Linked DNA regions of Homo sapiens: region 2 is linked to region 1. A link means that fine-mapping ties the variant in region 1 to the plasma level of a protein whose gene starts in the linked region. Region 1 holds a variant in brackets. A gene starts in the other region. All regions are shown on one strand. Distances are between the middles of the regions.

Region 1 (16,669 bases):
CTCACAGTTTCACATGGCTGGGAAGGCCTCACAATCATGGTGGAAGATGAAGGAAGCGCAAAGGGATGTCATACATGGCGGCAGGCAAGAGAGAGCGTGTGCAGTGGAACTCCCCTTTATAAAACCATCAGATCTTGTGAGACTTATTCACTATCAGGAGAACAGCATGGGAAAAATCTGCCCCCATGATTCAATTACCTCCCACTGGGTTCCTCCCATGACACATGGGGATTACTACAATTCAAGGTGAGAGTTTTGTGGAAACACAGAGCCAAACCATATCACTCCCATTAATTGAGATTATGTAGAGGAGATAAACGGTTATTTTTTTCCTGTCTGCTCAACTGGGTTTCACAGGAAGACAGGCTGGGAGCCTGACTGTTGAGGAATTCTTACCCTTTTGCCCGTTGTCAAGCCCTGGGTTCCCTTCACTGTGGCTTCTAGAAGAGCAGAGTGGCTTTGGTGAGCCTGCCCACAGCACCAAAACTGTAGGGTCCAAGGGAAAGCTTCCCCTTTGCCTTCTGAAAGTTCACTGAAAAATCACCTCACAAAGGAGTTGAGCAAGAGAAATGGCATACAGTTATCCACGTGCACACAGGGGAGAACCCCAGAGTGATTACCCCCTTCCTGAGAAACAAAAAGTCTCAAGGAAAAACTCACGACTTCATCGAGGAGTGAGAATATCTAGCTGAACAGAACTCAGGACCGGAATTATGTGGGAAGTCTGAGACTCAGGAGAAATGCAGCCAGTTGTCTGCAATCTTGGAGGAGCTGGAGGGGCTCAAAGGGCTTTTGCTGGTACCCTCAGGGTCCCTGCAATATTCCAGGCAAAGAGAGTGGTGGTGAGATGGAAAAAATGGAGGTGGAATGCAAGTGGGGGAGCAGGGAGATACAGGGCTCTCTGTTTTACAGACATTGGTTAATTGTTCCGGTTAGTCTCCTTTAAAAATTTAGAGACTGCCAATTGCGTTTGGAGCTTTCAAAAATGCTGATTAAAGGAAAGCCTCTTAGTATTTTTGAGAAATCCAGACTCCTCTTTGTTCTAATTGTGTGCATAGTTTAATTTAGATGCATCCCTCAGGTCGATCTTGTCTGGGGGCAAAATTTGACAATACCAATCCTTGGTAGTGATTAGTAATGTCCATGAACGAGGAGCACCGGCAGAGGACTTAGGGGTATATCAGGAAAATGGCCCATTCCATCCAGGGGTGGGGCAGGAGGGCACCGGGGGTGTGCTATTGACCCCAGACTCACTGGGGGTATAGGGTGGAAGTATAGACATTGGAGTCAGCCTTGTAAGATTTACCTAACCTCCCTGAGGCCCTGTTTTCTCAACTGTAAAAACAGTGGTTTGGAGGGTTCAATGATATGCTAACAGCAAATTTTTTTAAATTAATTAATTAATTAATTAATTAATTAATTTTTTTTGAGATGTTGTCTTACTCTGTTTCCTAGGCTGGAGTGCAGGCAGTGGCGCGATCTCAGCTCACTGCAACCTCTGCCTCCCGAGTTCCAGCGATTCTCCCACCTCAGCCTCCAGAGTAGCTAGGATTACAGGCGCTCACCACCACGCCCAGCTAATTTTTTGTATTTTTAGTAGAGATGGGGTTTCACCATGTTGGCCAGGCTGGTCTCCAACTCCTGACCTGAAGTGATCCGCCACCTCGGCCTCCCAAAGTGCTGGGATTACAGGTGTGAGCCACCGTGCCCAGCCTCAACAGCAACTTTTAAAAAGATAAATATTGGCCAGGCATGGTGGCTCACACCTGTAATCCCAGCACTTTGAGAGGCTGAGGTGGGCAGATTACTTGAGGCCAGAATTTTGAGACCAGCCTGGGCAACATGGCGAAACCCCATCTCTACTAAAAATACAAAAATTAGCCGGGCATGGTGGTGTGCACCTATATCTAGTCCCAGCAACTCGGGAGGCTGCGGTAGGAGAATCATTTGAACCTGAGAGGTGGAGGTTGCAGTGAGCCAAGATGGCGCCACTTCACTCCAGCCTGAGCGACAGAGCAAGACTCTGTCTCAAAAAAAATAAAAGGATGCAGGCTGGGCGCAGTGGCTCAAGCCTGTAATCCCAGCACTTTGGGAGGCCAAGGCGGGAGGACTGCTTGAGCTTAGGAGTTCGAGGCCAGCCTGGGCAACATGGCGAAAACCCATCTCTACAAAATATACAAAAATTAGCTGCGCATGGTGGTGCACGCCTGTAATCCCAGCTACTCGGGAGGCTGAGGCAGGAGAATCACTTGAACCCAGGGGGCAGAAGTTTGCAGTGAGCCGAGATTAGGCCATTGCACTCCATCCTGGGCAACAAGAGCAAGACTCTGTCTCAAAAAAAAAAAAAAAAAAAGGATGCATGTTATGTGCCCATCAGATTATGTACTTATTAGCTGTGGGTGATCATGTAAATTTTGTGTGCCTCAGTTTCCCAATGTGTAAAATGGGAATAAGGACAGCACCGATCTCAGAGGGTTACTACACGGATTAAATGTGAAGTGCTTAGAATAGTGCTTAGCATATTCTAAATTTCTAATAAATGTTAGCTATTATTTTTATATTTCTGATTATCACAAATGGGTCCTGAAAATAGATATTAGTATACCCATAGTTACAGATAAAACAAAGGCTTTGAGAGATTAAATAACTTCCCTAAACCATACGGCCAGGATTCAATAGAACTGGAGCCCCCAGGGTATGAACATCTCCTCCCGATGCAAGCTGTTGGCAGGAAGTGTAGGTGAACCTCTCCATAGGGCTGCTTGAGTGTTCTCACAACATGGCATCCAGCTCCTCCAGCGTGAGTGATCTAAGAGGGAGCAAGGTGGAAGCTACAGTGCCTTTATGACCTAGTCTTGGAAGTCACACATCATTACTTATGCCACATTCATTCTAATTTTATTTATGGAGACAGGGTCTTGCTCTGTCACCCAGGCTGGAGTGCAACGGCATGATCACGGCTCACCGCAACCTCCCAGGCTCAAGCAATCCTCCCACCTCAGCCTCCTGAGTAGCTGGGACTACAGGCACGTGCCACTAGGGCTCCCTAAGTTTTGTATTTTTTGTAGAGATTGGATCTTACTATGTTGCCCAGGCTGGTCTCGAACTCCTGGGTTCCAGTGATCCTCCAGTCTTGGCCTTCCAAAGTGCTAGGATTACAAGCATGAGCTACTGTGCCCAGCCTCATTCTACACATTGGAATAGAGTTGCTAGTTTAAGCAAAACTAAAACAAAAGGATGCCCAGTTAAATTTGAATTTGAGATAAACAATGAATACACTTTTAGTATAAGTCTATCGTCTATCCCATGCAGTATTCAGGACATACTTATTCTAAAATTTATTTGTTGTTTATCTGAACTCAAATTTCATTGGGTATCATATATTTTCTCTGGCAACCCTATGTTAGAAGCAAGTCATTTAGTCCAGCCCACCACTCAAGGGAAGGGCTTCCACTTTTGAAGGGAGGAATGTCCAATAATTTGTGGAGATATTTTTCAGCCACCACAAGCAGGGTTTTGGAAAAGTTCACCTGGTTCTGGGGTCTGTGGATAATTGTATGCGAGCCTAACAGGATGAAGCAGTAGTTCAGGGACAAGAAGGTTTTCTTCCAAATGGTCTTGCACATTTTCCAGAAATCACACACATTATCTTATTTGAGCCTCAGACAGCTCTGTGGAGTAGGTGAGGGTGGCAATTACAATCCCCATTTTACAGGCGAGGAAACAGATTAAGCACCTGCTCCAAGGTGATATGGGCAGAAATGGTGGAGGGGACAACAAATTCCCCTAATCTCAAGTCTGGCATTTGTTCTACTCCACCCAGTCATGTCCTGACAGAGTACTGATGTCTCCACTATATAAGATGTCTTAGATTCATTTTCTGTCTTCTGCCATGTTGTTATCTCACATAAGTGATGGGATTTGTGGATCCTCGCAGCAGTGCTGGGTGATGACAGAAGACTATTGGAGAAGCTGCGGCTGGAGGGCAGCTTTCTCTCCCCACATCCACAAGCTCTGAGATCCATCTTGGCTGAGACCATGGGCTTCAACCCACTCCTCAGACCCTTTGTGTTGACTGGTTCCAGAATACTGCCAGGAACCTCACTCATTTTCACCAGGAGGCCATCGGCCTCACATGAGAAAGCTGAGGAACAGTCAGCCCAAATAGATAATTACCCTCCTGTAATTTGTATTATAAGGAATTTTAGGCTGGGCATGGTGGCTCATGCCTGTAATCTCAGCACTTAGGGAGGCCAAGATGGGCTGATCACTTGAGGCCAGGAGTTCTAGACCAGTCTAGGCAACATGGGGAACCCTGTCTCTACTAAAAAAACAAATAACAGCCAAGCATGGTGGTGTATGTCTGTAGTCCCAGCTACTCAGGAGTCTGAGGCAGGAGAATTGCTTGAACCTGGGAGGCAGAGGCTACACTGAGCCAGGATTGTGCCACTGCACTCCAGCCTGGGTGACAGAGCAAGACTCTGTCTCAAAAAAAAGAAAATTTAGATATACAGAAAATCAGAAAGAATAGTATAATAGATATCCATACTCCTTCCACCTACACTCAGTAATTCTTACTATCTTTTCCCTGTTGGCTCTGCCAATCTTTTAACCTATTTTTATTGTGTATTTTGATTCACTCCTAAGTACTTTGTAACCTGCATTATCTAAGTACATGCTCCTATGTAACCATAAGTCTATAATCACACATAAGAGAATTAACCATGATTTGCTAATATCATCTAACACTGAGTTCGTGTTCAAATTTCTCCTGTTGTATCCAAAATATCTTCCATATCCAATCAACGCTCATCCATATGCCTCTTTAGTTTCTTTTATTTCTTTTATTTTATTTTATTTATTTTTATTTTTTGAGACGGAGTCTCGCTCTGTTGCCCAGGCTGGAGTGCAGTGGAGCGATCTCGGCTCACTGCAAGCTCCGCCTCCTGCGTTCACGCCACTCTTCTGCCTCAGCCTCCCGAGTAGCTGGGACTACAGGCGCCTGCCACTACGCCTGGCTAATTTTTTGTATTTTTTAGTAGAGATGGGGTTTCACTGTGTTAGCCAGGATGGTCTTGATCTCCTGACCTCATGATCCACCAGCCTTGGCCTCCCAGAGTGCTGGGATTACAGGCATGAGCCACTGTGCCCGGCCTATTTTTTTTTTTTTTTTTTGAGAGGGAGTCTCACTCTGTTGCCCAGGCTGGAGTGCAATGCGCAATCTCTGCTCACTGCAACCTCCACCTCCTGGGTTCAAGCGATTCTCCTGCCTCAGCTTCCCGAGTAGCTGGGATTACAGGCGGCTGCCACCACACCCAGCTAATTTTTTTTGTATTTTTAGTAGAGACAGGGTTTCACCATGCTGGCCAGCTGGTCTCAAACTCCTGACCTCAGGTGATCCGCCCACCTTGGCCTGCCAAAGTGCTGGGATTACAGGCATTGAGCCACCGCACCCAGCTAGTTTCTTTTAATCTAGAACAGTAACCTCTCATGAGATCAGTCCAGTTATCTTGTAGATGGCTGTTTTAGTCTATTCTCATGCTGCTAATAAAGACATACCTGAGACTGGGTAATTTATAAAGGAAAGAGGTTTAATTGACTCACAGTTCAGCATGGCTGGGGAGTTCTCAGGAAACTTACAATCATGGTGGAAGGGGGAAGCAAACATGTTCTTCTTCACATGGCGGCAGACTGAGAAGTGCAGAGTGAAGGTCGGGGGAAAGCCCCTTATAAAACCATCAGATCTCATGAGAACTCACTATCATGAGAACAGCATGAGGATAACTGCCCCCTGATTCAATTACCTTCCACCAGGTCCCTTCCATGACATGTGGGGATTATGGGAACTACAATTCAAGATAAGATTTTGGTGGGGACACAGCCAAACCATATCAATGGTTCCATGTTCTGGATTCCCAGCATAAAGACATTTCCTGATTTCCAGTATAGTTGGATGTGGTCCAGTGACCAAGTTCTATTCAATGACATATATATGAAAGTATTGTGTGAAGTTTCTGGAAAGTCTGCTGCTGCCTGGAATATGGGTATGATGGCTGGAGCTCTGGCATCCATTTTAGACCTAAGGATCAGGGTCATTCTGCAGGGATGATGGAGGCAAAAGCTGGAAACAGCTTAATGCTGACACTAATACCAGCTCTGTCTGCCTACTTCCCTACCTCTTTTACTTGAGAAAACAGAACCTTGTGTATGTGTGTGTGTGTGTGTAATTAAAAATTAAAAAAAAATTTTTTAGACGAGGTCTCACTTGCTCTGTCACCCAGGCTGGAGTACACTGGCATGATCATGGCTCACTGCAGCCTCAATCTCCTGGGCTCAAGTGATCCTCCCACCTCAGCCTCCAGAGCATCTGGGACTACAGGTGTGTGCCACCACACCTGGCTAATTTTTGTATTTTTTGTAGGCATGGGGTTTCACTCTGTTGCCCAGGCTGGGACCTTGTGTGCTTTAATCCCTGTTAAGTCACTTAGTCAAATTTAATCCTAGCTAATAAAGAAGACAGATTGAGGTCTACTATAGTTTTATATTTGCTTGGAAGAGATGTTATGTGCTTACTACTTGGCTAAAACATGTTTCAGGATTTCTCTTTTTCCTCCAGGTACAGACCTCCGGTCCCAACACACCATAAGAACATTCTGAGATGATAATGTTACCTACCCTCTAGTCTGGGCCACCTATGATGTTGAATGAGTCTTGGCAGCCAGGGAAAATTTCTGTAAGAGCCTTGTGGTTAGACACATAGGAAATAAAGTCACTGTGGCTTGTCACATGCAAGAGGACAGCAGGGGACAGGGCATAGCGCTGTGTGTGCAGGAACAGTGTGGGAATGATCTGGAATTTGTGAAATACCTGGGCAGCAATACAAGGACGAGGCTCCAAAGGGCAGGGCTTCAGGAGAGGAAATGGATAAACACTGCACTTCTTGCATTACTGCCAGCCACAAAGAGGTTTCCTGAGTGCTGAAAACCCCATCTGGAAAGTGTCCCATAGGAAACAAAAGGAGTTACAGTGTGTGAAGGTCACTTGGCTGCTGCACCACCTGCCACCCCATTAATCACTTGAGTTGGTGGGTACAGGAACAAAGCTGTGGGCAGAGGGTCAGAACACTTCCTGTCTGCCCCAGGCACATGGAAGACATTCTCCTGAGTAGTAACCTTGGCACTGCCTTGGCTATTTGAGAAGCTGGCCAGTTACGTATTTCAGTCACTGGGTATTTGAGAAGCTGGCCAGTCTTTTGAGCTTCAACCATTCTCACAGATGTTGAATTTGCAGTTCTTAATGGATCTAGTGACACCTTCCTACCTCAGTAGAGCAAAAAATGTGGATCCCAGGTCTGGGAACCTAAAAGAAATCACTCTGAGTAGGTTAGAATTTCACCTCTATCTGAGACCCTGACAGAATCATTTAAAAATAAAAACACATATATACAAATATCTATACACACATAGGTGTGTGTGTGTGAATAGGGTGGCCCACCTTCATGTTCTTTTACTCCCTTGTTCTTCCAGTCATTCACTGAGATGCTGAGTTTTCCAGCATCTCTCAGTCTCTCAGAAGAACCGCCTGCCAGCATCCAGTGGGTCACATCCTACGACAAGCCCAGCACCTCTTCAGTGGAAGGGGATTTGCTTTGCGGCTTGGCAAGTTTATGCAAGTCCCTGATTTCTTGCACTGACTGCTGAAAAGCAGAGCTCCATTTAAATTCCATTCCTTCTGAAGATCTGTCCTATGACCAGGGTGCATGGTTCAACTCCTCTCTGCATCTGGCTGGCACCCAGGGCACTCTTGCCCAAATGCTTTGTCAGGTAGTTTACTTGATCTGTTTCCTAACGTGCTTCCCAGCCATGGTCCACATGGTTTCAGACTGCTCCAGGGCCCCCAAGGCCAACACAGGGGTCATGCTTGGAGAAAACCTTCAATTCTTTGCAGCCTCAGGCTTCTCCAGCCTTGGGTGCCAGTGCTTTAAGGTCCTCCTTATCCTCTTTGCTGGGCATCACTGCCTCAGTCATGGTTTAAATCTGATACACAAGGTTCTTAATGGGCCTCCATAGCCATGTACAATTGACACCCTTAGCCTGGCTAATGTGGTTAGCTAGCAAGTTTGTTATCCCTTCCAGGTAAGAAATGCCTTAACCCAGTGAAAGATCTGTCTCCAGATGACCCTTAAAAGTGACTCTAATGGTGAGCCCTTGATGCTGATTATGTGAGGGAATCTTTTTTATTTTATTTTTGAGACAGGGTCTTGATCTGTTGCCCAGGCTGGAGTACAGTGGCGCAATCAGAGCTCACTGCAGCCTCTCCCAGGCTCAAGTGATCCTCCCCACTCAGTCCCCTGAGTAGCTGGAACTATAGGTGCATACCACTATGCCTGGCTAACTTCTTATTTTTTTATTTTTGTAGAGATGGATCTCCCTATGTTGCCCAGGCTCACCTTGAACTCTTGGCTTCAAGCAATCCTCCAGCATGTCCTCCCAAGTGCTGGGATTATAGGCATGAGCCACTGTGCCCAGCACATGTGAGGGAGTCTTGAGAATTCTGTGTAGTTTGTCATGTGGGAGAGGTAGCACCCCAGGGTGGTCAAGGGCTTGGCCTGGGTTTGAATCCTGGCTCCTCTCTTTGCTAGCTGTGTTACCTTGAACAAGTTCCTTATCCTCTCTGTGCCCCATTTATAAAAAACGGGATTATTAGATAATAAAAAGACCCAATGCTTATGGGCTGTTGAAGAATTAAATGAGTAAATACACAGAAAGCACATAGCACAGTGCCTGGCACACAGAACCCTCCCAATGTTACCTGTTATTACTAGGAGTTGACTGGCTTTTCTCCTAAAGTACCTGCAGGGCTGGTTCTGCGGACAGCTTTTATGCTTCTGAGGGCTGGATCTTCTCCACTGCAGACAGAAGATGACAATACAGGCATTACTTACTCGTGTTACAGTTTTTATTTCTGCCCCTATTCTGAACTCTTTGAAGGCAGAGGCTATGTTTATCCCCCATTCAATTCAACCAACCGGACTGAGCCTCTGTTGTATGCCAGGCATTGCTGGGCCATGGAGATAAGGGTGAATGAAAAAACACCGACTTGGTCCTACCTTGTTTCCTGGGACCCATCCCACAAACGTGGTAGGTTGAAGAAATTAAGGAAGGTTGATATGAATTCTTTTGAATATAGAGTCAGTTTTTACACTCGTACTAATATCCTCATGCCTTTGACATCTGACCAGTTTCATGCTGGGAAAGGCAGCATTTCTTTGTAAGTTTTGACAGGCTGTGTGGGTTTCCCACCTTGGTTGGCTGTCTTTGCTGACAGGAAGCTGGTCTGAGGATAATATTTGATTTAGCAGCCTGGATCTTGGAAGTTCCTCATTTACAAACTGTCAGGGATGATCCTACTTTTAAGAAGCTCTTAAAAAGCTTAAAATATCAATGTGTATGGTACAAAATATCAATATGTGTGTCTGCCAGTGGCTCAGTTTTGGAGAAGAGAATTGCTGACCGTAAGGCAGTGCAACTGGGAAGCAATGCCTATGTTCCAGGCACCGTGGGACCCTGTAGCCCCTGGTCCTGGTGACTGTGAAAAAAAGGAGAAATTCTAGAAATAGGTGTAATCATGTGAATGTCTT[TG/T]TTTAATTTTCTTATCAAGATAAACTGCAATTCTGAACAACATGTGCTGTTCTGAATTCAACAGTCCACTCTCCATTCTGTTTGAAGGTCATGTATACTCTTGTGAAAATCCAGGGTTCTCATTTCATGGCTACTGAGGTATTTATTCCTATACTATTTAAATCAATTAAAAAATATCATTTACAATAACATAAACATCAAATGCTTAAGAATAAATCTAATGAAAGAGGTGCCAGAGGTCTGTATCAATATGAACAAGGCATTAAAATTAAAGACAGCCTAAATAAATGAAGAGAGATGCTACGTGCATTACTCGAAAGACTCAACAGAGTCAAGATGTCAACTCTCCCCAAAGTGATCTGGAGATTCAATGTAATCCCAATAAAAATCCCATCAGGACATTTTGTGAGAATTGGAAAGTTGATTTTAAAATTTACATAAAATGGAAAAGACCTAGAATAGTCAAGACAAACTCTGAAAGAAAATAAAGTTGGAACACTTATAATACCAGATAGCAAGATTTAGTATAAAGTTCCCATTATTGGCCAGGTGTGGAGGCTCATGCCTGTAATGCCAGCACTTTAGGAAGCTGAGGTGGGTGGATCACTTGAGCCCAAGAGTTCAAGTCCAGCCTGGTCAACATGGCAAAACCACATCTCTACAACTACAACAACAACAAGTTGGCTGTGTGTGGTTGCGCATACCTGTAGTCTCAGTTACCTGTGAGGCTGAGGTGGGAGGATTGTTGGAGATCATTGTTGAGGCTGCAGATTGTGTCCCTGCACTCCTGCCTGGGGGACAGTGAGACCCTGTCTCAAAAAAAGTTCCCATTTGTGAACCCCCAAAATTTGAGACAGGTTTCGGTTAATTTAGAAAGCTTATTTTGCCAAGGTTGAGGACGCACACCCAACACAACCTCAGGAGGTCCTGATATATGTCCAAGGCGGTCAGAGCACAGTTTGGTTTTATACATTTTAGGGAGACCTGAGACATCAATCAACATACGTAAGATGAACACTGGTTCCGTCCGCAGAGGCGGGACAAGTCTCAAAGCCAGGAGGGGGCTTCCAGGTCATAGGTAGATAAGAGACAAATGGTTACATTCTTTTGAGGTTCTGATGAGCCTCTCCAAAAGAGGCAAAAGGATATGCATTTATCTCAGTGAGCAGAGGGGTGGCATTGAATAGAATGGGAGGCAGGTTTGCCCTAAGCAGTTCTCTGCTTCACTTTTCCCTTTAGCTTAGTGATTCTGGGGGTTTAAGATAGTTTCCTTTCACACATTATTATTATTATTATTATTATTATTATTTATTTTTTTATTTTTATTTTTTGAGACAGAATCTCGTTCTGTCGCCCAGGCTGGAGTGCAGTGGCGCGATCTCAGCTCACTGCAACTTCCGCCTTCCGGGTTCAAGCGATTCCCCTGCCTCAGCCTCCGAGTAGCTGGGACTACAGGCGCCCGCCACCATGCCCAGCTAATTTTTTGTACTTTAGTAGGGATGGGGTTTCACCATGTTGGCCAGAATGATCTCGATCTCCTGACCTCGTGATCCACCCGCCTCGGCCTCCCAAAATGCTGGGATTACAGGCGTGAGCCACCGCACCCAACCTCCTTTCACACATTATTAAGACAGTATGACAATGGCTCCAGATTAGACAAATAGACTAATGGAAAAGAATAGAGGATTCAGGAGGAGGCCAACACATATATAATCACCTGATGTATAATAAAGATACCACTGGAATTCAGGGACAAAGGATGGTCATTTTAGCAAATAATACTGGATCGATTGCATGCCTATATGGAAAAAATGAACTTTTCTCTCACATCCTATACCAACATTAATTCCAAATGGATCATAGACCTAGATTTGAAAGGTAAAACAATACACTTTTAGAAAAACATATAGGAGAATATTGTCACAACCTTGTAGGCAAAAATTTCTTAATCAGAACACAGAAATCACTAACTATGAAATTTAAAAAACTGACAAATTAGGACTTATTTAAGATTAAGAACTTCTGTACTTCTGTTCATCAAAATACAAGATTAAAAGAATTAAAGGACAAACCATGGAATGGGAGAACATGTTTACAATACATTTATCCAAAAAAAGACTAGTATTCAGAATATTTTAGAAAAAGACAACAAATCTACAAGGAGAAGACATACTGTAAAGAGGATATCTAAGTGGTCCAACACAAATCTAAAAAGTGGTCTACATCATTTGATATTGGGGAAATGCAAAATTAAAGCCATTATTATTATTTTTATTTATTTATTTATTTTTTGAGATGGAGTCTTGCTCTTTCCCCCAGGCTGAAGTGCAGTGGTGCGATCTCAGTTCACTGCAACCTCTGCCCCCAGGTTCAAACGATTCTCCTGCCTCAGTCTCCTGAGTAGCTGGGACTACAGGCCCATGCCACCACACCCGGCTGATTTTTGTATTTTTAGTAGAGACGGGGTTTCGCTGTGTTGGCCAGGCTGGTCTCGAACTCCTGACCTCAGGTGATCCACCTGCCTTGGCCTCCCAAAGTGCTAGGATTACAGGCGTGAGCCACTGTGCCTGGCCTCCATTATTATGTTTTACTACACATATGCAGAATGGCAAAACTTAAAAAGTATTGGCAAGGATGCAGAGCAACTGGAACTTTGATATACTGATGATAGGAGAGTTTATTGAAAAACTGGTAGAATCTATTAAAGCTAGACATATGCCTACCCTATGACAAAACCAGGTACGTATCCAAGAGAAATGAATGCAGGTAACCACCAAACAATATATGCAAGAATGTTCATAGCAGCTTGGTTTGCAGTAGCCCCCGGATGGAATCAATCCACACATCCATCTACAGGAGAATGGATAAATCAATTGTGCTTTAGTCACACAATGGAATACTTCTCAGCAATAAAAAAAGAAACTAATGTGACAACATGGATGTTTCTCACAGACATTATGTTGAAAAAACAAGCCAGAAACCAAGAATGCCTACTATTTGATTCTATTTATACAAAGTTCAGGACCAGGCAAAAGTATTCCATCATGACAGATGTCAGGACAGTGGTTACTTTGGTAGGGGTGGGGTGTGGGCTGAGAGGAACCCAAAGGAGTTTTCTGGGGTGCTAGAAATATTTCATACTATAAAGATTCATTGAGATGAACACTTAAGGTTTGGTATTTTTAGTAAATGATGCTGGATCAATTGTACATCCAAATGGAGTAAAATGAGTGTGGTCTCCTTACCTCACTTCCCTGTGTGTATGCAAGCTATTTATAACAGTAAAATTAAAGTACATGTGATACCTCCTTAAGTTAGGAGTATAATATAGCATTTAAGATTTTTTTTTTTTTTTTTTTTTTTGAGACAGAGTCTCGCTCTGTCACCCAGGCTGGAGTGCAGTGGCGCGATCTTGGCTCACTGCAACCTCCGCCCCCCAGGTTCAAGTGATTCTCCTGCCTCAGCCTCCTGAGTAGCTGGGATTACAGGCGCACGCCATCACACCTGGCTAATTTTTGTATTTTTAGTAGGATGGGGTTTCACCATGTTGGTCAGCCTGGTCTCAAACTCCTGACCTCGTGATCTGCCTGCCACGGCCTCCCAAAGTGCTGGGATTACAGGTGTGAGCCACCGTGCCTGGCCTAAAATGTTTTAAGAGTTTTCTACAACATGGAAAATGCCTACAACATTGGGTGATGTAGAAAGCAAAAAGTTCCTCTTCAAAATTTCCCTTCTTGTTAAAGAATAAATCATAAGTGTTAGAGATAATAGTTTCTTTTAAAAACTAACTTCCTTCAAACTTCCTTGCTTTGTGCTAATAACTCTTTGTTAAGCCCTATCCTATGTAGTTATTAAATGTAAGAAAATTAAATACATTCTATGTCCCTGTACTTTAACCAAGATATCTGTGCTAGACCTGTGCACAGGCATGTCACAGCTTGCAGCCTATGCCCCTTCCTTATTTGGGAATGTTATTACTTTTCTGAGTCTTTTCATAAGCAACTTCCTCTTTTCCTTTCTTCTCCTCTGCCATTACCTCTTTAGAAAAAGTTTTAAACCTTTAGCCAACTGGGTGCTGCCTAGACTGTCAGGTCCAGTTCCAGCCAATGGAATCAGGACACAGCAGTAGGGTCTGGATGGGTCAGATATAAATGTTTTGTACCTCCTTTGTTCAAGTGTGCTCTTGTCTTTGTTCCATCTGTGATGGGCACCCTTTCTGCAGAAAGTAAAAATTGCCTTGCTGAGAGAATTAAATTTATGTTCAAGTGCTATTTCTTTATGGCACTGGGGAACAAGCATTTTGCATTTCTAACAGATGAAAAGGTTAGGCCAAAAAATTCTATATAAAGAATGATCAAAATTGTGTAAAAGTATGCACAGAGAAAATCTGAAAGGAAGTAACACTAAAATGTTAATAGTGGTTATTGGTTGTCTTGAGGTGGTGAAATTATCGGAGACTTATTTCTTATTTTTATTTTTTGGTAGCTTATAAAATTTCAAGACTTTTGTAATGGCAGAGTAAACTTTTTGTTTTTTTGAGACAGGGTCTCACTGTCACCCAGGCTGAAGTGCAGTGGCATGATCATAGCTCACTACAGCCTCAACTCCCAGGTGCAAGCAATCCTCCCACCTCAGCCTCCAGAGTAGCTGGGACTACAGGCATGTGCCACTGTTCTTGGATAATTTTTTACGTATTTTCTGTAGAGACGGAGTTTTACCATGTTGCCCATTTTATTCCATATGGTCTCCAACTCTTGGGCTCAAGCAATCGACCCGCCTTGGCCTCCCAAAGCACTGGGATTACAGGCATGAGCCACTATGCCTGGCTGGCAGAGTGAACTTTTAAAAATCATATTTTCCTTCTAAAATCAAAACTCTCCCCTTCAAGCTCCTCTGTCAACTGCTGTCCTGGCCTATTAATATTTCAAGCTTTCCTGCTTTCTATTCTCCCAAGAAAATATATGCCTACTTTCCTTGGTGGAGTCTTCTGACTTGCTATCTCCCATCTTGACTTGTCCAGTGATAGAGAGAAGCCTTTTGGGCTGGATTCTGTTTCTCCTCAAGTTAATGAAAGATGCCCAGGGCAGGAAGGCTGTGTGTGAATGCTCCCCTGTTGCCCAAGACAAGGGGTCAGAGTAATAGAGTTCAGGGTATGTTCAGAGGAGGAACGTGAATTTTCACGTACCTGGTGAGTAAACAATTGTTCTACAAAAGTGGTGAGAAATGTTTCATTTTAGACACCCTAGGAGGGCACCAGTCTGAGGAGGAAGTCTCTCCCTCCATTTCATAGGACCAGCATTCTCCCCACTTCCCTGAGGACCCACAGAGCTGCAGAAATAGAGGCCATCTCTTCCCTCTGTGGAAAAGTAGCAGCAACTGGACAGAAAAGAAAAAAGAAGCCTGGGGCTGTGACATTTGCAAGACTCTAGATAGAGGACTGTGAGAGGCTGAGATTTGACAGTTTCTGTGGGGAGGGATGATGGACTGGATGAGGTGGGAGGGGGAGGAGGGCATGAGGATGCCATAGGACAGAAGTGCTCCAGGTTTAGTGGAATCCTTCACAGTCTACAGTGCGGGTTCTCTTTGGAAAACGTAGGGTGTAGCTCCCTCCTTCTGGCCATTGAAGGAAGACCTGGGTGGCAAAGCACAGGTAAAGACAAGCTGTGACAGAGGATAGCAGGAACCCAGGGACCTAGGGAGCAGAATTCTAACACCTTCACCCCAGATTCAGCCAGAGCAGCTCCATTTCCATCATTGCACACACCAGTTCTACTGGTTAACATCTGCTACCTATGAGTGTTCCTCACGCTTTGTAGCTTAGGACAGTCATCTTCTATTTAGCTTATGATTCTGTGGGTCAGCAATGTGGGCTGGGCTTAGCTGGAGGTGGTTTTGGTCAGGATCAGTTTCAGCTGATCTTGGCAGGAGCTCACTCATGCATCTGTGGAGGACTTCTGGAAATTTGGGGCTGGCTGTCTGTCAGCTGGAATGCCTGGGTTCCACTCTATGGGGACCTTTCATTCTCCAGCAATGGAGGAATAACTTGGGCTCATTCACAGGGTAGCCCCCAGATTCCGGGTGCTGTAAAAGCAGTCAAACCCCAATTCACAAGCATGTTTCAAGACTATCCTTGTTACATCTGCTACTATTTCAACATAGTCACAGAGCCAACCCCAGATTCCAGGGGTGGAGAAATGGGCTCCTACTTATGACTGAAGAGCTGCAGTCTATTGCCTCATACCTGCAGGGCTGGGGAGAAGTTATGGACGCTTGAAATGTAGATTCTCACATCCCCACACACACCTGTTGGATCCAATTCATGGAAAAGGGGCCTCTCACTATGTCCTTCGGGTGACTCCCTCCTCCTTAATATTTTAAAATATTTTATTTGATACTTATAATATATTATATGTGACATATATGTGTGGGCATATATGTGTTTTATTAAAAATAAAGCACAATAATATAATGTACGTTAATGAACCTACTACCCAGCCCAAAAGCTGGGTCATTAACAATTTATTTATATTTACCTAAGTGTCTTTCTCTTATGCCTTCCTCCTACCTCCTCTTGAGATGTAACATTTTACATTTTGGGTTTTCCATTCCAACAAGAAATTTAAAAATACAGTTTTGACTCTTTGATATCTATGCCTGAACAACATACTGCTGAGTCTTCTTTCTTTCTCTTTCTTCCTTCCTTTTCTCTCTTCTTTTTCTTTCTTTCTTTCCTTCCTTCTCTTTCTTTCTCTTTCTCCAATAAAAATAAGTTTACTTATTTACTTCTTGAATTTTTTGTGCTAAAATATTTGTAACATAAAATTTCCGATTTTAACCATTCTGAAGTGTACAATTCGGCAGCATTTATTACACCAGCAATGTTGTGCAACCATCACCACTATCAGTTTCCAAAATTTTTTCATCACCCCAAACAGGAACTCTGTACCCATTAAGCAATCACTTCCCATTTCTTGCTTCTCCCAGCCCCTAGTAAAGTCTAACCTACTTTTTCTTCTATGCATTTGCCT
Region 2 (8,000 bases), 72 Mb before region 1:
GAGGTTGTAGTGAGTCAAGATCGCGCCATCGCACTCCAGCTTGGGCAACAAGAGCGAAACTCTGTCTCAAAAAAAAATTTAATCTAATTTAATTTAATTTAAAAATTAGCACGGTGGTTGGGCACAGTGGCTCACGCCTGTAATCCCAGCACTTTGGGAAGCCAAGGTGGGCAGATCACAAGGTCAGGAATTCGAGACCAGCCTGGCCAATATGGGGAAACCCCATCTCTACTAAAAATACAAAAAATTAGCCGGGTGTGGTGGCGCACGCCTGTAATCCCAGCTACTCGGGAGGTTGAGGTAGGAGAATCACTTGAACCCAGGAGGCAGAGGTTGCAGTGACCCGAGATCACACCATTGCACTCTAGCCTGGGCAACAAGAGCAAAACTCCATCTCAAAAAAAATTATAAAAATTATACATCAGTAGATGAATGGGTAAACAAAATGTGGTGGTCTATACACACAATGGAATATTATTTGGCCACAAAAAGAAATGAAGCACTGATAGGATGTAGCTGCACCCTGAAAATATTTGACAAGTAAAAGAAGCCGGACACCAAAGGTCACAAACTGCATGACCCCATCTATATGCAATATCCGCTACAGCCAAATCCATAGGGACCAAAAGCGGATTAGTGGCTGCCGGGGCCAGAGTTACTGTTAATGAGTACCGAGGTGGCGTTTGGGATGATGAAAAAGTTCTGACCTAGATAGTGGTGATGGCTGCATAACACTAAGTGTTCTTAATATCACCAAATTTTATACCTGAAAAATGGCTACAATGGTAATTTATGTCTATTTTATCACCTTTTTTAAAACAAAAAAGATATAAGGGGTACAGCAGAGTGAGTGCTGCATATGCATTTACTATTATTCTTGGGTTACATCCCAGGTACTCAATAAATGTTCACTGCCCTGAAGAAACACCTGCTACGAGTCAGGCACCTCACAGTTGTTATCCGTTTAATTCTCACAATCTGAGAAGAAACTGTCACCCTCATTTTATATAATAAATGAGAAAACAGACTCGGGCAAGTGTCACAATAGAATCAAGAGGCAGAATAAACTGACTTCCAATGCCAAATCCATGCCGAAATTCAGTGCTATAATAATGTACATGGCCGGGCGCGGTGGTTCACGCCTGTAATCCCAGAACTTTGGGAGGCTGAGGCGGGAGGATCACCTGAGGTCGGGAGTTTGAGATCAGCCTAACACGGTGAAACCCTGTCTCTACTAAAAATACAAAATTGGCATGGTGGCATGCACCTGTGATCCCAGTTACTCGGGAGGCTGAGGCAGGAGAATCGTTTGAACCCGGGAGGCGGAGGTTGCAGTGAGCCGGAATGGCGCCACTGCACTCACCGCACCCGGCCAATTTTTGTGTTTTTAGTAGAGACTAAATACCATATAGTGAACACCTAAGACGGGGGGCCTTGGATCCAGGGCGATTCAGAGGGCCCCGGTCGGAGCTGTCGGAGATTGAGCGCGCGCGGTCCCGGGATCTCCGACGAGGCCCTGGACCCCCGGGCGGCGAAGCTGCGGCGCGGCGCCCCCTGGAGGCCGCGGGACCCCTGGCCGGTCCGCGCAGGCGCAGCGGGGTCGCAGGGCGCGGCGGGTTCCAGCGCGGGGATGGCGCTGTCCGCGGAGGACCGGGCGCTGGTGCGCGCCCTGTGGAAGAAGCTGGGCAGCAACGTCGGCGTCTACACGACAGAGGCCCTGGAAAGGTGCGGCAGGCTGGGCGCCCCCGCCCCCAGGGGCCCTCCCTCCCCAAGCCCCCCGGACGCGCCTCACCCACGTTCCTCTCGCAGGACCTTCCTGGCTTTCCCCGCCACGAAGACCTACTTCTCCCACCTGGACCTGAGCCCCGGCTCCTCACAAGTCAGAGCCCACGGCCAGAAGGTGGCGGACGCGCTGAGCCTCGCCGTGGAGCGCCTGGACGACCTACCCCACGCGCTGTCCGCGCTGAGCCACCTGCACGCGTGCCAGCTGCGAGTGGACCCGGCCAGCTTCCAGGTGAGCGGCTGCCGTGCTGGGCCCCTGTCCCCGGGAGGGCCCCGGCGGGGTGGGTGCGGGGGGCGTGCGGGGCGGGTGCAGGCGAGTGAGCCTTGAGCGCTCGCCGCAGCTCCTGGGCCACTGCCTGCTGGTAACCCTCGCCCGGCACTACCCCGGAGACTTCAGCCCCGCGCTGCAGGCGTCGCTGGACAAGTTCCTGAGCCACGTTATCTCGGCGCTGGTTTCCGAGTACCGCTGAACTGTGGGTGGGTGGCCGCGGGATCCCCAGGCGACCTTCCCCGTGTTTGAGTAAAGCCTCTCCCAGGAGCAGCCTTCTTGCCGTGCTCTCTCGAGGTCAGGACGCGAGAGGAAGGCGCCGCCCCTCCCCAAGGAAAGGCGAGGGCCTGGGGCACACCCCCAGTGCCCAGATCCAGGCGCGCCTCTTTCCACCTCCAGCAGGTTTGGGGCCTCGGCCATGGGGGCACCGAACTGCGTGCAGCCTGACCCTCCCGAATGGGGTGGTAGGTGAGGGCCGCGGGACGCCCCGGGCGGCGGGCTGCGAGGACGGCCGACTCTGCCCATCCCGAGGGCGGCTGGCTTCGCCCTCCCCACTCTGCGCCGAGCACGCGGCCCGGACCCACCGCGAGAACTCCGCACCTGCAGCGTGAACGCACGCGGGCGGCGTTAAGGGCCCGGGGCTGACTCGGAGCAGGTTAGGGAACAGCGCCCCCTCCCGGCGCGAGCCGGTACCTGCGCAGCACCCAGCCGCCGCGGCTGTGGCCTGGAATCGGGGACCTGGGGTGCCGGGGGGTTGTGGTGAAGGAGGTGGGACCAGCCCCAGCACCTAGCCACGTAGCTGGCGAGGTGGACCAGGAACCGACCCAGACCCCTGCCGTCACCCGACATCACTACGGAGAGTGAAGCTTTTTTATATTTGTCCACATAAAACCAATCATGGTCATTGTAGAACTTCCGAAAACAAGGCTTGCTGCACCTTCCTGTGTATCCCAGGTCCAGGAATGGGTGCAGCACATCCTTCAGCTGCCGCTTGACACGCGGCAAACTGTGTCATGTGTAAACAAGAACAGGACATGGCTGTCATATCCAAGAGCACATGTGTAACACAGACATGCCACACACACACACACACACACACGGGGTAGAGGCAGGCCTCATCCACACCCCTAACATTTGATGCGTAGCTGTTCCAGTCTTCTAGGCACATGTAGAGATGCTTTTCCTCAGAAATGGTATTCTCAAGGTGACACTGAGGAAAAGTGGACAGGCCGGGCGCGGTGGCTCACGCCTGTAATCCCAGCACTCCGGGAGGCCGAGGCGGGCGGATCACGAGGTCAGGAGATCGAGACCATCCTGGCTAACACTGTGAAACCCCGTCTCTACTAAAAATACAAAAAAATAGCTGGGGGTGGTGGCGGGCGCCTGCATTCCCAGCTACTCGGGAGGCTGCGGCAGGAGAATGGCGTGAACCCCGGAGGCGGAGCCTGCAGTGAGCCAAGATTGCGCCACTGCACTCCAGCCTGGGCGACAGAGTGAGACTCCGTCTCAGAAAAAATAAAAATAAAAATAAAAATTAGCTGGGTGTGGTGCGGGCGCCTGTAATCCCAACTTCAGGAGGCTGAGGCAGGAGGATGGCTTGAACCCGGGAGGCGGAGGTTGCGGTGAGCCGAGATCACACCATTGCACTCCAGCCTGAGCGACAGAGCGAGACTCCGTCTCAAAAAAAAAAAAAAGAGGAGGGGGCGGGGGGAAGAGCCAGAGAAAATATTTGCTACATGTGGCAGATAAAGGTTATTATCTCTACTACATTAGATCTCCGGGCGGGGCATGGTGGCTCACGCCTGTAATCCCAGCACTTTGGGAAGCAGAGGCCGGTAGATCACCTGAGGTCAGGAGTTTAAGACCAGCCTGGCCAACATGGTGAAACCCCGTTTCTACTAAAAATATAAAAACTAACTGGGTGTGGTGGTGCATGCCTGTACTCCCAGCTACTCGGGAGGCTGAGACAGGAGAATCACTTGAACCAGAGTCGGAGGTTGGAGTGAGCTGAGATTGCACCACTGCACTCCAGCTTTGCGACAGAGCGAGACTGTCTCAAACAAAAAAAAAAAAAAAGAAAAGAAAAAATCTGGCCCCTAGCCCACCCGTGAGCCCCCTCTTGGATCCACGTTCTAGTTTCTATCCTTGGGGTAGCTCGAGTCAGTCTCACCTCAATCATCCTGTGTGCTCCCAGAGCACAGGACCTGCGGCTGCTGCAACTTCGCGCACAGGAGCAAGCACTTGGAGCCCAGGAGGCTCAGGGGCCCTGAGGAAGCACCAGGCTCTCAGACTCCTGTAACTAGGTGTGGACACCCTCCTGGGATTACATCTGGAGCATCACTGAAGGTGGAAGAGCCAGACCGCATCCTCCCTGGAGATGTGGAGGTTGGAGGGAGCTGGCCCTGGCTCAAGGGCTCAGCCCACTTGGTACAGAACCTACCCAGAGGTGCAGATCCAAGGGAGCAGGGGGAGCAGCTGTGGGCCCTCCACACTGTTGGGGAGACTCATGCCCACTCAAGTCCAGGGGAATTTGCACTCTGCCTTTTTTTTTTTTTTTTTTTTTTGAGATGGAGTCTTGCTCTGTCACCCAGGCTGGAGTGCAGTGGTGCAATCTCAACTCGCTGCAATCTCCACCTCCCGGGTTCAAGCGAATCTCCTGCCTCAGCCTCCTGAGTAGCTGGGATTACAGGTGCCTGCCACGCCTGGCTCATTTTTATATTTTTAGTAGAGACGGGGTTTCACCATGTTGGCCAGGATGGTCTCAATTTCTTAACCTTGTGATCCACCTGCCTTGGCCTCCCAAAGTGCTGGGATTGCAGATGTAAGCCACCGCGCCTGGCCATACTCTGCCTTTTCAAAGCCACTCCTACACAGGTGGTGGTGAAGGCTGCACAACAATGTAGATACACGTCGTGCCACTGAACTGTACACTGAAAAACTGTTATAACGGCACGTTTTGTGTGCACTTTACTATAATAAAAAATGTTCCATCCTGGCTGGGCGCGGTGGCTCACGCCTATAATCCCAGCACTTTGGGAGGCCGAGGCGGGCAAATCATAAGGTCACGAGATTGAGACCATCCTGGCTAACACAGTGCAACCCCGTCTCTACTAAAAAAAACACACAAAAAATTGGCCGGGCGTGATAGCGGGCGCCTGTAGTCCCAGCTATTCGGGAGGCTGAGGCAGGAGAATGGCGTGAACCAGGGAGGCGGAGCTTGCAGTGAGCCGAGTTTGCGCCACTGCATTCTAGCCTGGGTGACAAAAGCGAGACTCCGTCTCAAAAAAAAAAAAAAAAAAGTTCCATCCTGGCCAACGTGGTTCTGGCTCCAGGCTGCCACCCCTCCCCCAAAGGATGCCACCCCAGATAGGGGTCCTCGGCCTGCTCCAGCACCTGCCTGTCCCATGACGGCTGCACACTGGGGTAGGAAACGGCCTCCGCATCCTCCTCTCCTCCCCCCAGGACTACCCTTAACCCACTCAGGGCTTCGGTCAAGGCCCATGCGCTCCCCAAGCCCAAGGTAACCCTGTGCAGGAGGCAAAGGTGGTACAAGGCACAGCCCATCCAGCTAGTTTGGCGCCGACAGCACCCACCAAACAGAGCCATTTACCTTTAAAAAAATCACTGCCAGCTGTGGTGACACACCTGTAATCCTAGTGCTTTGAGAGGCTGAGGTGGGAAGACTGCTTGAGCCCAGGAGTTCCCAAGAATATCCTGAGCAACATAGTGAGACCTGTCTCCACAAAAACATAAAAAATTAGCCAAGTGTGGTAGTGCACACCTATGTCCCAGTTACTTGGAGGCTGGGGCAGGAGGATCACTTAAGTCCAGGAGTTCAAGGCTGCAGTAAGCCATGACTACAACACTGCACTCCAGCATGGGTGACAAAGCAAGCATCGTCTCAAAAAAAATAAATAAATAATTTTGGCCAGGTGCCGTGGCTTACGCCTGTGATCCCAGCACTTTGGGAGGTCAAGGCGGGTGGATCACGAGGTCAGGAGTCCAAGACCAGCCTGGCCAAGATGGTGAAACGTTGTCTCTACTAAAAATACAACAATTAGCCGGGCATGGTGGCGGGCCCCTGTATTCCCAGCTAGTCGGGAGGCTGAGGCAGAGGGTGCAGTGAGCCGAGACTGCATCACCGCGCTCTAGCCTAGGAGACAGAGCGAGACTCCGTCTCAAAAAAAAAAAAAAAAAGTTTTTTTTTAATCGCCAAATGTTCTGGAGAGGCCCCCTTCTCTTCTGTTCTCCTGCAGTCTGGGCTGCAGGCCAAGGTGGTCCCTGTGGGTGGAGACAAGGGCCGGTTCCACCTGACACTACAGACCCCTTCACATGGGAGGGATACACTTCCAGACCCATATATCTCCGAGTAGCCATCTTTGGCGAGATTTACTGGTACTGCAGTGGAAAGGAAGGACTCGCTGTACTGGGTGAAAAAAGTGAAAACATGGGACTCCTATCGCAGACTCTGACAGCAGAACCTGGTGTGGGTTATTTGGGAGGAGGGAGGGAGGAGGGAGAAAGGAAGAGCTGTTGTGGGTGCTATCAGCGAAACTGCACCGGGGGCATGAAGCTCAGTTTGGTCAGCACCACCTGGCAGGTGTACCAAAAGCCCACCCGACTGTCCCTGCACGGTAGAGAGGCAGGAGCGCCTCTCCCTGCACGGATGGTGCCCCGGAGGCTACCAGGGGCGGCCGAGGACACTGATGCTGCATCCCAGGAGGACCTGTCCTTCAGCTGTAATCAGCAGACACGGGGGACAGGATGGCCAGGGGCACAGCACCTTTTCTGTAAACCCCACACCCTGACCCCCCCCACCCAAAAAAGCAAAAAACAACTATTTGTCTACACATACAATTTTATGCCCAGATGGAAAAAGATCCAAATGATTCACAGTGGTGATGGCTCTGAGGGTGACGCTGTCTGCTTAAGGCCCAGGGAAACCCAGGTGCAAACTCACACTCATCACCCAGGCAGCCACAGCCATGAACACAACGTGGGCTTGGGAACAGGGAGCCCAGACCCAACCACTCCCTCCTAGAAGACGAAGAGGAAAGCACATGTGCTGAACAAGTACCCTGAGTCCCACCTGCAGGAAAAGGTGCAGGTAAGGAATACGGACACGGGAGGAATACGGACACGGAGGGAACAGCGACACGGGGGGAACAGCGACACGGGGGGAACAGCGACACGGGGGGAACAGCGACACGGGGGGAACAGCGACACGGGGGGAACAGCGACACGGGGGGAACAGCGACACGGGGGGAACAGCGACACGGGGGGAACAGCGACACGGGGGGAACAGCGACACGGGGGGAACAGCGACACGGGGGGAACAGCGACACGGGGGGAACAGCGACACGGGGGGAACAGCGACACGGGGGGAACAGCGACACGGGGGGAACAGCGACACGGGGGGAACAGCGACACGGGGGGAACAGCGACACGGGGGGAACAGCGACACGGGGGGAACAGCGACACGGGGGGAACAGCGACACGGGGGGAACAGCGACACGGGGGGAACAGCGACACGGGGGGAACAGCGACACGGGGGGAACAGCGACACGGGGGGAACAGCGACACGGGGGGAACAGCGACACGGGGGGAACAGCGACACGGGGGGAACAGCGACACGGGGGGAACAGCGACACGGGGGGAACAGCGACACGGGGGGAACAGCGACACGGGGGGAACAGCGACACGGGGGGAACAGCGACACGGGGGGAACAGCGACACGGGGGGAACAGCGACACGGGGGGAACAGCGACACGGGGGGAACAGCGACACGGGGGGAACAGCGACACGGGGGGAACAGCGACACGGGGGGAACAGCGACACGGGGGGAACAGCGACACGGGGGGAACAGCGACACGGGGGGAACAGCGACACGGGGGGAACAGCGACACGGGGGGAACAGCGACACGGGGGGAACAGCGACACGGGGGGAACA

Alleles and levels. Alleles are on the strand shown, and positions count from the first base shown. The strength of an association depends on the size of the effect and on how common the allele is.
For the plasma level of the protein whose gene starts at base 1,603 in region 2, allele TG in region 1 goes with a lower level than allele T (weak association).

What was found. A credible set is the group of variants that fine-mapping cannot tell apart. PIP is the posterior inclusion probability: the model's chance that the variant is causal. Protein levels are from antibody-based Olink assays in UK Biobank. Linkage for the fine-mapping came from a reference panel and not from the study's own genotypes, which makes the PIPs less certain.
Region 2: it holds the start of HBQ1, and the variant in region 1 is the best candidate, but not a certain one, in a credible set for the plasma level of the HBQ1 protein (UK Biobank, PIP 0.65).

What each region holds. Positions count from the first base shown.
Region 1 is chr16:72,035,450-72,052,118 of GRCh38, forward strand. No RefSeq gene overlaps it. Among named protein-coding and RNA genes, the nearest start is that of HP, 11 kb to the right of the region's middle. The variant TG/T (reference allele first, on the strand shown) is at 9,641.
Region 2 is chr16:178,857-186,856 of GRCh38, forward strand. It overlaps HBQ1 (hemoglobin subunit theta 1), which reads left to right and starts at 1,603. Exons shown (of 3, transcript NM_005331.5): 1 at 1,603-1,725; 2 at 1,810-2,014; 3 at 2,124-2,323. The coding sequence starts at 1,631. The coding sequence ends at 2,252. RefSeq lists an enhancer at 2,104-2,363 and a silencer at 2,374-2,723.